3 linked regions of the Homo sapiens genome follow. The protein of the gene in region 1 purifies or fractionates together with the protein of each later gene. This does not show direct contact. Each region holds a gene or a part of one and is shown in the gene's direction. Other genes may lie near its edges. The genes, in order: NIPBL, AKAP8 and MED13.

What was found.
Region 2: the proteins of NIPBL (region 1) and AKAP8 purify together in Homo sapiens (affinity purification with mass spectrometry, with the first as the bait; one large-scale study listed by BioGRID). This does not show direct contact.
Region 3: the proteins of NIPBL (region 1) and MED13 purify together in Homo sapiens (affinity purification with mass spectrometry, with the first as the bait; one large-scale study listed by BioGRID). This does not show direct contact.

Annotation. Positions count from the first base shown.
Region 1 is NC_000005.10:36,984,661-36,988,312, forward strand, and holds part of NIPBL (nipped-B-like protein), read left to right. Parts: intron 1-15; coding exon 16-1,641; intron 1,642-3,652. UniProt on the Homo sapiens protein: Plays an important role in the loading of the cohesin complex on to DNA. Forms a heterodimeric complex (also known as cohesin loading complex) with MAU2/SCC4 which mediates the loading of the cohesin complex onto chromatin.
Region 2 is NC_000019.10:15,373,288-15,376,939, reverse strand, and holds part of AKAP8 (A-kinase anchor protein 8), read left to right. Parts: intron 1-2,304; coding exon 2,305-2,337; intron 2,338-2,874; coding exon 2,875-3,154; intron 3,155-3,599; coding exon 3,600-3,652. UniProt on the Homo sapiens protein: Anchoring protein that mediates the subcellular compartmentation of cAMP-dependent protein kinase (PKA type II).
Region 3 is NC_000017.11:62,058,723-62,062,374, reverse strand, and holds part of MED13 (mediator of RNA polymerase II transcription subunit 13), read left to right. Parts: intron 1-3,652. UniProt on the Homo sapiens protein: Component of the Mediator complex, a coactivator involved in the regulated transcription of nearly all RNA polymerase II-dependent genes.

The DNA of each region.
Region 1 (3,652 bases):
ATCTTTAAATTTCAGATAAGCCTTTGAAAAAAAGAAAACAAGATTCTTACCCACAGGAGGCTGGGGGTGCTACAGGAGGTAATAGACCAGCTTCTCAGGAGACGGGTTCTACGGGAAATGGGTCAAGGCCAGCATTAATGGTTAGCATTGATCTTCATCAGGCAGGAAGAGTGGACTCTCAGGCTTCTATAACTCAGGATTCAGACTCCATAAAAAAGCCTGAAGAAATCAAACAATGTAATGATGCACCTGTTTCTGTTCTTCAGGAAGATATTGTTGGAAGTCTTAAATCTACACCAGAAAACCATCCTGAGACACCTAAAAAAAAGTCTGATCCTGAGCTTTCAAAGAGTGAAATGAAACAAAGTGAAAGTAGATTAGCAGAATCTAAACCAAATGAAAACCGATTGGTGGAGACAAAATCAAGTGAAAATAAGTTAGAAACTAAAGTTGAGACCCAAACAGAAGAACTTAAACAGAATGAGAGCAGAACAACTGAATGCAAACAAAACGAGAGCACCATAGTTGAGCCTAAACAAAATGAAAATAGACTGTCTGACACAAAACCAAATGACAACAAACAAAATAATGGCAGATCAGAAACAACAAAATCAAGGCCTGAAACCCCAAAGCAAAAGGGTGAAAGCCGGCCTGAGACTCCAAAACAAAAGAGTGATGGGCATCCTGAAACCCCAAAACAGAAGGGTGATGGAAGGCCTGAAACTCCAAAGCAAAAAGGTGAGAGCCGCCCTGAAACTCCAAAGCAAAAAAATGAAGGGCGACCTGAAACACCAAAACACAGGCATGACAATAGGAGGGATTCTGGAAAGCCATCTACAGAGAAAAAACCTGAAGTGTCTAAACATAAACAAGATACTAAATCTGACTCACCTCGGTTAAAATCAGAACGAGCTGAAGCCTTAAAGCAGAGACCTGATGGGCGATCTGTTTCTGAGTCACTAAGACGTGACCATGATAATAAACAAAAATCAGATGACAGGGGTGAATCAGAGCGACATCGAGGGGATCAGTCTAGGGTTCGAAGACCAGAAACATTGAGATCCTCTAGTAGAAATGAACATGGCATTAAATCTGATAGTTCAAAAACTGATAAACTAGAACGAAAACACAGGCATGAATCAGGGGACTCAAGGGAAAGACCATCTTCTGGGGAACAAAAATCAAGACCTGACAGTCCTCGTGTTAAACAAGGAGATTCTAATAAATCAAGATCTGATAAACTTGGTTTTAAATCACCAACTAGTAAAGATGACAAAAGGACAGAGGGTAACAAGAGTAAAGTAGACACTAATAAAGCACACCCTGACAATAAGGCAGAATTTCCAAGTTATTTGTTGGGGGGCAGGTCTGGTGCGTTGAAAAATTTTGTCATTCCGAAAATCAAGAGGGATAAAGATGGCAATGTTACTCAGGAGACAAAGAAAATGGAAATGAAAGGAGAGCCGAAAGACAAAGTAGAAAAAATAGGATTAGTTGAAGATCTAAATAAAGGAGCTAAGCCTGTAGTTGTGCTACAAAAACTGTCTTTGGATGATGTTCAGAAACTTATTAAAGATAGAGAGGACAAATCAAGAAGTTCCCTTAAACCTATCAAGAATAAACCATCAAAGTCAAATAAAGGTAAGAATACTTCTACTGATGTCATTTATAATATAATCGATTTTAAGTGTTAAGATTACTAAGTTTTAAAAAGGAAATTTACAAAAATTAGAAAGCTACTACATGAAAATATAACATTTATGTCAAACAACAGGAAATTTTTTTCAGGAGTATAGATAAAAAGTTTCCAGTGAATTTTTTTTTCCCCACAGTTTTTTTCTTCCCACCCACTACTCAAGGTAGTTATGAATGTTACTGCTATTTGGTTACACAGAGATAAGTTATTTTGCTGTTTAGTTATTTCTTATATTTCTGAAATATGCTTAAGTGAATGTTGTATTAAAATAGCTGTCTTTAAAAACTCTCTATTTAAAAATGTCTTACAATACTACATTCTTACAGACCTGTGTCTGAGCCAATTATTGATGAATAATTTGTATAGTTTAGAAAGTTATATAAAAGGTTATTTTTCATTTTGTTGGGGAGATGGTTAGTTAAATATGTTTTATATTTTTAAAACATATCTTTTTGTCCTTGTTTATGCAAAGGTAATAGGGAATGGTACTTACTTTTTAAATTTGGTTAAATTGTAAGTTTGTGGGAGGCGGGGGACTGGTGTTATTTTTGCATGGTTTCTGAATTCTCTGGTTACTTGAGTAAAATTATTTCCAAAGGGAGAAGAATGTCTTAAGTGCCAAAAGATAATGGCCATTTGTGCAGAAGATATACTTCTGTATCCCTTTGTACACAAGTATTTAAAATAACTTTTTTTATTTTTAAATAGAGATGGGGTCTTGCTTTGTTGACCAGGCTGGTTTCGAACTCCTGGCCTCAAGTGATCCTCTCCTCTCAGCCTCCCAAAGTGCTGGGATTACAGGCGTGAGCCACCGTGTCCATACAGTCTAAATATACTGAGGTGTAGTGAAGGCAATAGAACTGAGAGTTTATTTAAGTTTTCCTTCTGTGAAAGAGAATTATTAAGAATTTAGATTTATACTTATATATAACCAAGTATATGAAATCTGGAATTGCATTGGCCAAGAGGGTAACCATTGCCTTTTTTGGCTATTTAAATTTAAGTTAACTAAAATTGGAAGTTCATTTCATTAGTAGTCACATGTGGCTGTTGGCTACCATATTGGACAAAACAGAACATTTGCATCATCACAAAGTTGTATAGCACTGCAGTGTATTAGGAGATACAAAAAGTGTGTGGTTATTGTTTTTCATAACATGCTGTTGTAGCTTGTCTACCAAGAAAGCTCTTTGAAAACATATTATAAAGAACTCTTTATTCAAAGAATGACTTGTGGCTAATCTGTTGTTATTCTTGCTTGGTCTTCGTCAACATTCATTTTTTCACTGTTAATTTATTTCCTTTTGTCTTACAATAATGAAAAAAGATTGCCTTCTGAGTCGCTAATATTTGTGTTCTTTGAGTGAAGCTTTTAAATTTTAAATTATGGCAATTAGACTTACCAAAAGTCAGTTAAGACATCAGCCTTAATTAATAAGTAGGCTTTTTTATTTAACTTGAATGCATCTTTTCAGAGTTACTTGTTAATATAAAAGAGGTTGTAGAATGTGGGGGTTAACACCACAATTGTTTTCTTTTAGGTAAAAATTTTCTTTAAAATTTTTTAGTGAAAGTTTGGGAGTAGCTTATATTTATAAACTAAAGAGTATGGCTATACAATTTTAGAAGAGTCAGGTGAAAGATGGAAAGTGGTACCCTCTTGTTCCTTTGATCTGGACCATCTTTCTCTCCCTCCCCTCTCAGCTTACCCTAGCCTTGCTTTCTAAACTCTGTTCTAACAAAGAGTCTTTTAAAACTCCTTAAAGAACATCCAGAAGTGAATATAGCTTTTAGTTAGTAATTGGTATATTATTTCACCTGGGTTTTTCACATGCAATAATATTGCCTATGAATATGTTTTTAGCACCAAAATGCGTTTCTGATAGTATACTTTTAATGCAGATGTATATACCTGATATGGTCATGTTAGTATGTAAGTAAGCTATCTGGGTGTCT
Region 2 (3,652 bases), on another chromosome or scaffold:
TCCCCTAACTCAAGGCCCTAGCATGGCAGAGCTGAACTTGGGTCAAGGGAGAGTAGTAGCCCAGGGGTCAGCAAACTTTGTGTAAAAGATCAGATAGTGAATATCTTTGTGGCTTTATGGGCTCCACAGTCTCTGTAGCAGGAAAGCAGTCATAAATGTGTGAAAGAGTGGATGGGACAATGCCAGTAGTTACTTACAGACAATACAATTTGAAGTTCCTAATTTTTGCGTGTTAGTGAATACTCTATTTTGGCAAAATATTTTTGTTATTCTGAGTAAATAGCTGAGGGTATATCCGAGGTGTTTTTTCTCTATAATTACCAGACTTTTTAGTACAGCTTTAGATTGAGTAGTGGAGTTTCATACGCCCACCCACCTCCACTCAGGTGTACTGAGTGTACACTACACCTGTAGTGAGTGTACTAAAAATCTCATTAGTATGATTTTTTTTTCTTTTGATACAGAGTCTTGCTCTGTTGCCCAGGCTGGAGTGCAGTGGTGTGATCTCGGCTTACTGCAGCCGCAGCCTCCCGAGTAGCTGGGATTACAGGCACCCACCACTGCGCCCAGCTAATTTTTGTATTTTTAGTAGAGACAGGGTTTTACCATGTTGGCCAAGCTGGTCTCGAACTCCTGACCTCATAATCAATCCCATAATCAAAGTGCTGGGATTACAGGCGTGAGCCACCACGCCTGGCCTCATTAGTAAGATCTTTCATTAGCTGGGCGAGGCAGCACACGCCTGCAATCCCAGCACTTTGGGAGGCTGAGGCAAGAGGCTCACTTGAGCCTGGGAGTTCGAGACCCGAGCTCAAGTGATCCTTTTATCCAACTAATGAAAAATTAGTGGGGCGTGGCAGTGCGTGCCTGTAGTCCCGGCCACTCAGAAGGCTGAGATAGGAAGATTGCTTGAGCCCAGGAGGTAAGGCTGCAGTGAGCTGTGATTATGCCACTGTACTCCAGCCTGGGTGACAGAGCACGACCCTGTCTCAAAAAAAAAAAGGCCAGGCACGGTGGCTCACGCCTGTAATCCCAGCATTTTGGGAGGCCGAGGCGGGCAGATCACGAGGTCAGGAGATCGAGACCATCCTGGCTAACACAGTGAAACCCCGTCTCTACTAAAAATACAAAAAAAATTAGCCGGGCGCGGTGGCGGGCGCCTGTAGTCCCAGCTACTCCGGAGGCTGAGACAGGAGAATGGCGTGAACCCAGGAGGTGGAGCTTGCAGTGAGCCGAGATCGCGCCACTGCACTTCAGCCCATGCAACAGAGCGAGACTCCATCTCAAAAAAAAAAAACAAAAAAAAAATCTTGCATTGGTGTGATGCATTTGTTACAATTAATCAGGCAATGTTGATGTGATATTATTCACTATAGCTCATAGTTTTTGTTAATTTGTATAGTTCTCTGAGTTTTGATCCAGTGTGTAAGTGATGTATCTCATGTCAAAATTTGTCATTGAATACACTTTAGAAACTTTACCCCAACCATTTAAAAACGTAAAATTCATCCTTAGCTGAGGGCAGAGCCTGAGAGCACAGGGCTACGGGCAGTGTGCTGGTACTTATTTATGGGCACCGAAATTCGAAAATCCTAAGGGCTGTGCCAAGGCGGGAAGTGGGCTGGGTGTGGCTGGACTTTTTGCAGATCCCTGCTTTAGAGTCAGGGCCATGATGCTAGGCTTGTGTGGCGAACCAGTGCATGCTCTCTGCTGGCGAGGCTTTCTCCTTTCTGCCAGCCCGTGTTTTAGGGCACGAGGGCTTCCTTTGTTTTCTGAGCCTGAGATCTGACTCAGGCAACATGGGGAGTGGGGCTGCTTTTGAGCCACCACCCGGTGTTTCAGGAGGAGGCCTTCCAAGTCGCTCGTGGCACATAACGTCCTCTTTTTCGCTTGAGTTGAGGACGTGACTTTGCACCAATGCTTCGCTGTGCAGTTGGCAGCGCCTGCACTCTGGCTTCTGATGGGAACTGACCCTTTACGAGGTCTCTGCCTGGGGCCTGGCCTGGCCAACCTCTTGGCCAGCAGCCCACAGTGGACGAGCTTCCTGGGGAGCGTGCGGCGTCCCTTCCCTTGCCCTGACGGACGGTTGGCCTTGCCCGGGATAGAGGGCTTGCTTGTGCTCAGCCTCTCAGCCTAGTGCTCTGTAGGAGTTGAGTGAGCTAAAAACACCCAAGGGTGTCTCCCTGAGCGCTGCGGAGGGAAGCCCTGGCCCTGGGGCTGTGGAGGGTGGAGCAAGGTGACAGCTGGGGTGTCAGTGCCTTCGTTCTGCAAACAGGGCTCTTGTGTGTTTCTGTTTCCCCTAAGGTGCATATGGAACTGGTGTGGCCAGCTGGCAAGGTAAGCCCTTCTGTGGGGGGGGTCTGTGGGCGGGCAAGTGGGCCTCTGATCTGAAGGCCAGGCGGGTCAGCCCGTCAGGGAGGTCTGGCGTGGACTTTCTGGCTCTGTTCCTGAGGACGCAGTCAGCCACGGCTGCTGTTGTGTATATGGGGGGACTGCAGAGGGCTGTGGTGGGCGGCCTCAGGGGAGCATGATGGGGAGGACTGCGACCGTGCTTTGGGAGCAGCGGTCCTTTGTGGGGCCTGTCAGCAGCCGGAACTGCTGTTCCCAGGCTCTCAGTCACCCGGCTTTGAATGGGGAACAGGTCCTAGCGTCTGGCATGGAAAACCCGCCGCTCGGCACTGAGGCTGCCCCTTTCTCTGGCCACCTCCTGCTGCCTCTTGGCAGGTCACAGTGCAGTGTGAAGTGATGCCAGCAGCACTGGGTCCCACACCCGTTTTCCTTCTCCGTGGCAGCGGGTGCCCCTCCCCGGTTGTGTCCACCATGGACAGGCCTCGTGGCTGCTGAAGTCTGACTTGGCTCCTCCCCCTGTGACAGGTTATGAAAACTACAATTACTATGGCGCCCAGAACACCAGTGTCACCACAGGCGCAACCTACAGCTACGGCCCAGCCTCGTGGGAGGCCGCCAAGGCCAATGATGGCGGCCTGGCGGCCGGGGCCCCTGCCATGCACATGGCCTCTTACGGCCCAGAGCCATGCACCGACAATTCCGACTCCCTCATTGCCAAGATCAACCAGCGTTTGGACATGATGTCCAAGGAAGGAGGCAGGGGCGGGAGCGGCGGCGGTGGGGAGGGCATACAGGACCGGGAGAGGTGATTATGGACCCAAGCCCTCCCCCGGGACCCCACACATCCCCACCTTTGTGCGCATGGGAGTGGGCACCCACTCTTGAGGGAGGGCCTGTCCCCGCCTCCCTCTTGGGTGTGGCATTGACGAGTTGGGCTCGTGGGGGGTCAGTGATGTTACAGTAGGACTTCCTTGCTTTTCTTCATGGCGGGGCTTGGGCGTGGTTGTTGGCTAAGCTCCCCGAGACTCCTTTTTTCTACATCATGCTATTCCTGTGGCCAGGGGCTCTGTCCCCTGCTCAGCAGTGTTCCAGGGAGGGTGTTGGTCAGTTTTGGTCATCCCAGCACTTAGGTGGGATGCAGGGTGGTTTGGTTTGCTGTTTTGAATGTAGGGGCGTCGAGGTTATACTGAGGGAGTGTGGCAGTGGGTGATCGGGGTGACCGCCCCTGATGGGCTGTGCTTCTGTTGCAGCTCCTTCCGCTTCCAGCCGTTCGAGTCCTATGACTCCAGGCCCTGCCTGCCGG
Region 3 (3,652 bases), on another chromosome or scaffold:
TGTGATTACTTCCTTATTTTCTTGACTTTTAGGACCAAATGCTACTTTAGAAAGAGAAACTATAGCTTTTCATATAATTACTGAAGCTTTAAATTGTGAAAGTCAGTATTAACTGAATCTTAGATAATAGGAATATAAATGATTGGTTGTATGCTATAAGGTTCCAAAGACTTCAGTAAGATAGTTTGATAATGATTTTTGACAGATAAACTTAGGATTTCTAGATAATTTTTTTTAAGTTCTTATTTGAAATTGAGTACTCTGAAGTTTTTGTTATTGTATCTCTGACCTATAGGATCTATTTTATTTTTGGATAGAATGTATTCTAGGTGTCTGTATCTTGAACTGGTACTTAGTAAGACCAACATTTATGTAGGAATGTACGTGTTACATTTGTATGTTTTGATAATTGCTTTTCACATTCTAATGAACATACTCTCCAGTGTTAATTGTTATTTTTGAGAGTGACTGCAATTCTTCAAGAAAGCTTTCCAGCTTTTGTAGTTTTTCTAATAAGATGCCTGCTGCAGAGTCCAGTCCTTAGTTGTGTGTATTTAATGTAGTTCTAAATGTGTAAAGTGATGTGTATATGTATATACATATATGTACATATACATGATGTATGTATATATGGTAGTTTTAGCGAGACAATACTTTCTAATTATGCCAAAAGCTAAGTCCGCCAGCCTCCTTTTTCTTTCATTGTTTTGGATATAGTATTTGAGTTATTTTAATCGTTAAGTGGTCATAAAAATCACCTTACTAGAATGTTTGGAGACTGTATAACATTGTTGAAAAACTATAAACTATTGATAAAATATATTTGTTGATAAAACATAATTATTGATAAAACTATAATGGTGACTTAGGGGCTTTGGTCTTCTTAATAAAGTTGGCAGAGCATCTAAACAGACTAAACAGATCTTTTTTTAAGATTCCATGAAATACACTTTGTAGAATCAAAGATAATTTTAAGAGATACATAATGTTTAATTTTTTTTTTCTTTTTTTCTTTTTAAGTAGAGATGGGGTCTTGCTGTGTTGACCAGGCTGGTCTTGAACTCCTGAACTCTAGTGATCCTTCCATCTTAACCTCCCAAAGTGCTGGGATTACAAGTGTGAGCCCCTGCACCTGGCCTAGTTTTACCGTAATAGAAAAAATATTGTGAAAGTTAAAAGACTATTAAAGTTAGATGTGAGCTGCTTTGATGGATATTGTTAAAAGTCAGTTTTGTCTTCTAGGTTTCATGTTACCAGTCAGATATGTTTTCTCCACTGAAACTAGGTTACAGTCTTAAACATTTTTCTCTAGCTTTGATTTTTAGCGTAATTTTCAAAAATGGTAGTTACTTGTACCTTTAAAATAGTGATCAGCTGGGTGCCATGGCTCACTCACGCCTGTAATCCCAGCACTTTTGGGAGGCTGAGGCAGGCAGATCGCAGGGTCAGGAGATAGAGACCATCCTGGCCAACATGGTGAAACCCCATCTCTACTGAAGACACAAAAATTAGCTGGGCATGGTGGCACGCACCTGTAGTTCCAGCTACTCAGTAGGCTGAGGCAGGAGAATTGCTTGATCCCAGGAGGCGGAGGTTGCAGTGAGCCGAGATCTTGCCACTGCACTCCAGCCTGGGCGACAGAGTGAGACTCTGTCTCAAAAAAAAAAATAGATAGTGATCTTGAACGTGAATGAAAATAATTTTGGGAGGTTGGTTTTTTTTTTTTTTTTGAGACGGAGTCTCATTCTGTCCCGCGGGCTGGAGTGCAGTGGCGTGATCTCGCTCTCTGAGTGCAGTGGAGCTTGCTTGCTGCAAGCTCTGCCTCCTGGGTTCATGCCATACTCCTACTACCTCAGCCTCCTGAGTACCTGGGACTACAGGCGCCCACCACCACGCCCGGCTAATTTTTTGTATTTTTAATAGAGACGGGGTTTCACTGTTAGACAGGATGGTCTCGATCTCCTGAGCTTGTGATCCGCCAGCCTTGGCCTCCCAAACTGCTGGGATTACAGGCAGGAGGTAGGGTTTTAACTGCTGTCAGACTTTACTGAATGCTAATGAATGGTAAATAGCTTTTTTTTTGAGATGGAGTCTTGCTTTGTCGCCCAGGCTGGAGTGCAGTGGCGCAATCTCAGCTCACTGCAACCTCCACCTCCTGGGTTCAAGCGATTCTCCTGTCTCAGCCTCCCGAGTAGCTGGGATTACAGGCACATGCTGCCACACTCGGCTAATTTTTTGTATTTTTAGTAGAGATGGGGTTTCACCGTGTTCGCCAGGCTGGTCTCGAACTCCTGAGCGCAGACAGTCCACCCGCCTCGGCCTCCCAAAGTGCTAGGATTACAGGCGTGAGTCACTGCACCTGGCCGTAAATAACTTAAAAATTTATCAAAGTGAAGTGATTGAAATAATAAACTGAAATACAATTAGGAGTGGTATATGATCATATTTATTGTTCCAAAGCTTGTCCTGTACTGTTTTAGTTTGCATAGTCAGTGTTATTTATATAATATTTTAGCTTTTCTTAAAAATAAAACCTGTTATTTACTTAAGAATGTTGTTACTTAAATCAGACGTATCTTAAAGCATAATAAGGTTTTTTCAGATGGAATATATTTGTCTTGCCCTTTTCTTTGCTCTAGGGACAGCGTCTACCTCCCTCTTGGGGTAATTAGTCTGCCTCTGTCTCTCTAGCTAACCCCTTTTTCATTTCTTCCATCTGTGGCACTCTATTTCCTTCTTCTAAGCTCCCCTGAGAAGAGAGCAGCTGGACAGTACAGGGTAGCATCAGCTGCTGGAGGCAGTCCTGAGTTCCAAGTGGAGGTGTAGCACTGAGGAATGGGGTACCGGAAGGACCCAGGTGGTAACTAAAAAGCTGGTTAATTTAGCTTGAGCCTGCTCTTCACAGGCAGTGTCCTTCTGTTTGGTTCAGCACACACCACATCTTGTTACTGAAGTGTTTTTTATTATGGTGATAATATTGCCCTTGTTTTTCTTGGTAGTGAGGGAAGAGGGAAAGCATTTCTTTTTTCAAAGATTAGAATTCTCAGTTTTTCTTAACTGGAATATTCAGTAACAGAAATACAGAATTGCCTTTGTTTAACCCCCTTAGCTCCTTTGTGTCATGCAGTGTATTTTTAAAAATTAACTAATGAACCAATATTGATACTTTATTATTAACTAAAGTATATATTTGGATTTCCTTTATTTTTTTGCCTAATATGTTTTTCTTTTCTAGGATCTCATTTAAGATACCCCTATTACATTTAATTGTCATGTCTCCTTAGGCTTTGTTAGACTGTGACAGTTTCTCAGACTTTCTTTGGTTTTGATGATTTCGACAGTTCTGAAGAATCTGTTCAGATTCCATAGTGCATTTTAAATTTCATTTTCTCTTATGTCACTTAGCATTTGTTTGGGTTACCTTCCTTTCAAGTTTAGCTGATGTGTAGAAATAGAATGTAAACTTATTTTATTGCTAACTGGCAAAGATCAGTTACAGCAAATCACGTCTGATTTAATACATACTTTAAACCCTCAGTTACTCATTTTGTAGCAGTAAGTCAATACCGTTGAGCAAAGTAATTTGCAAAGGCTGGATGATTTTTGGATCAGGATTTGTGCTAACTAGTATTAGCCAAACTATAACATTCCA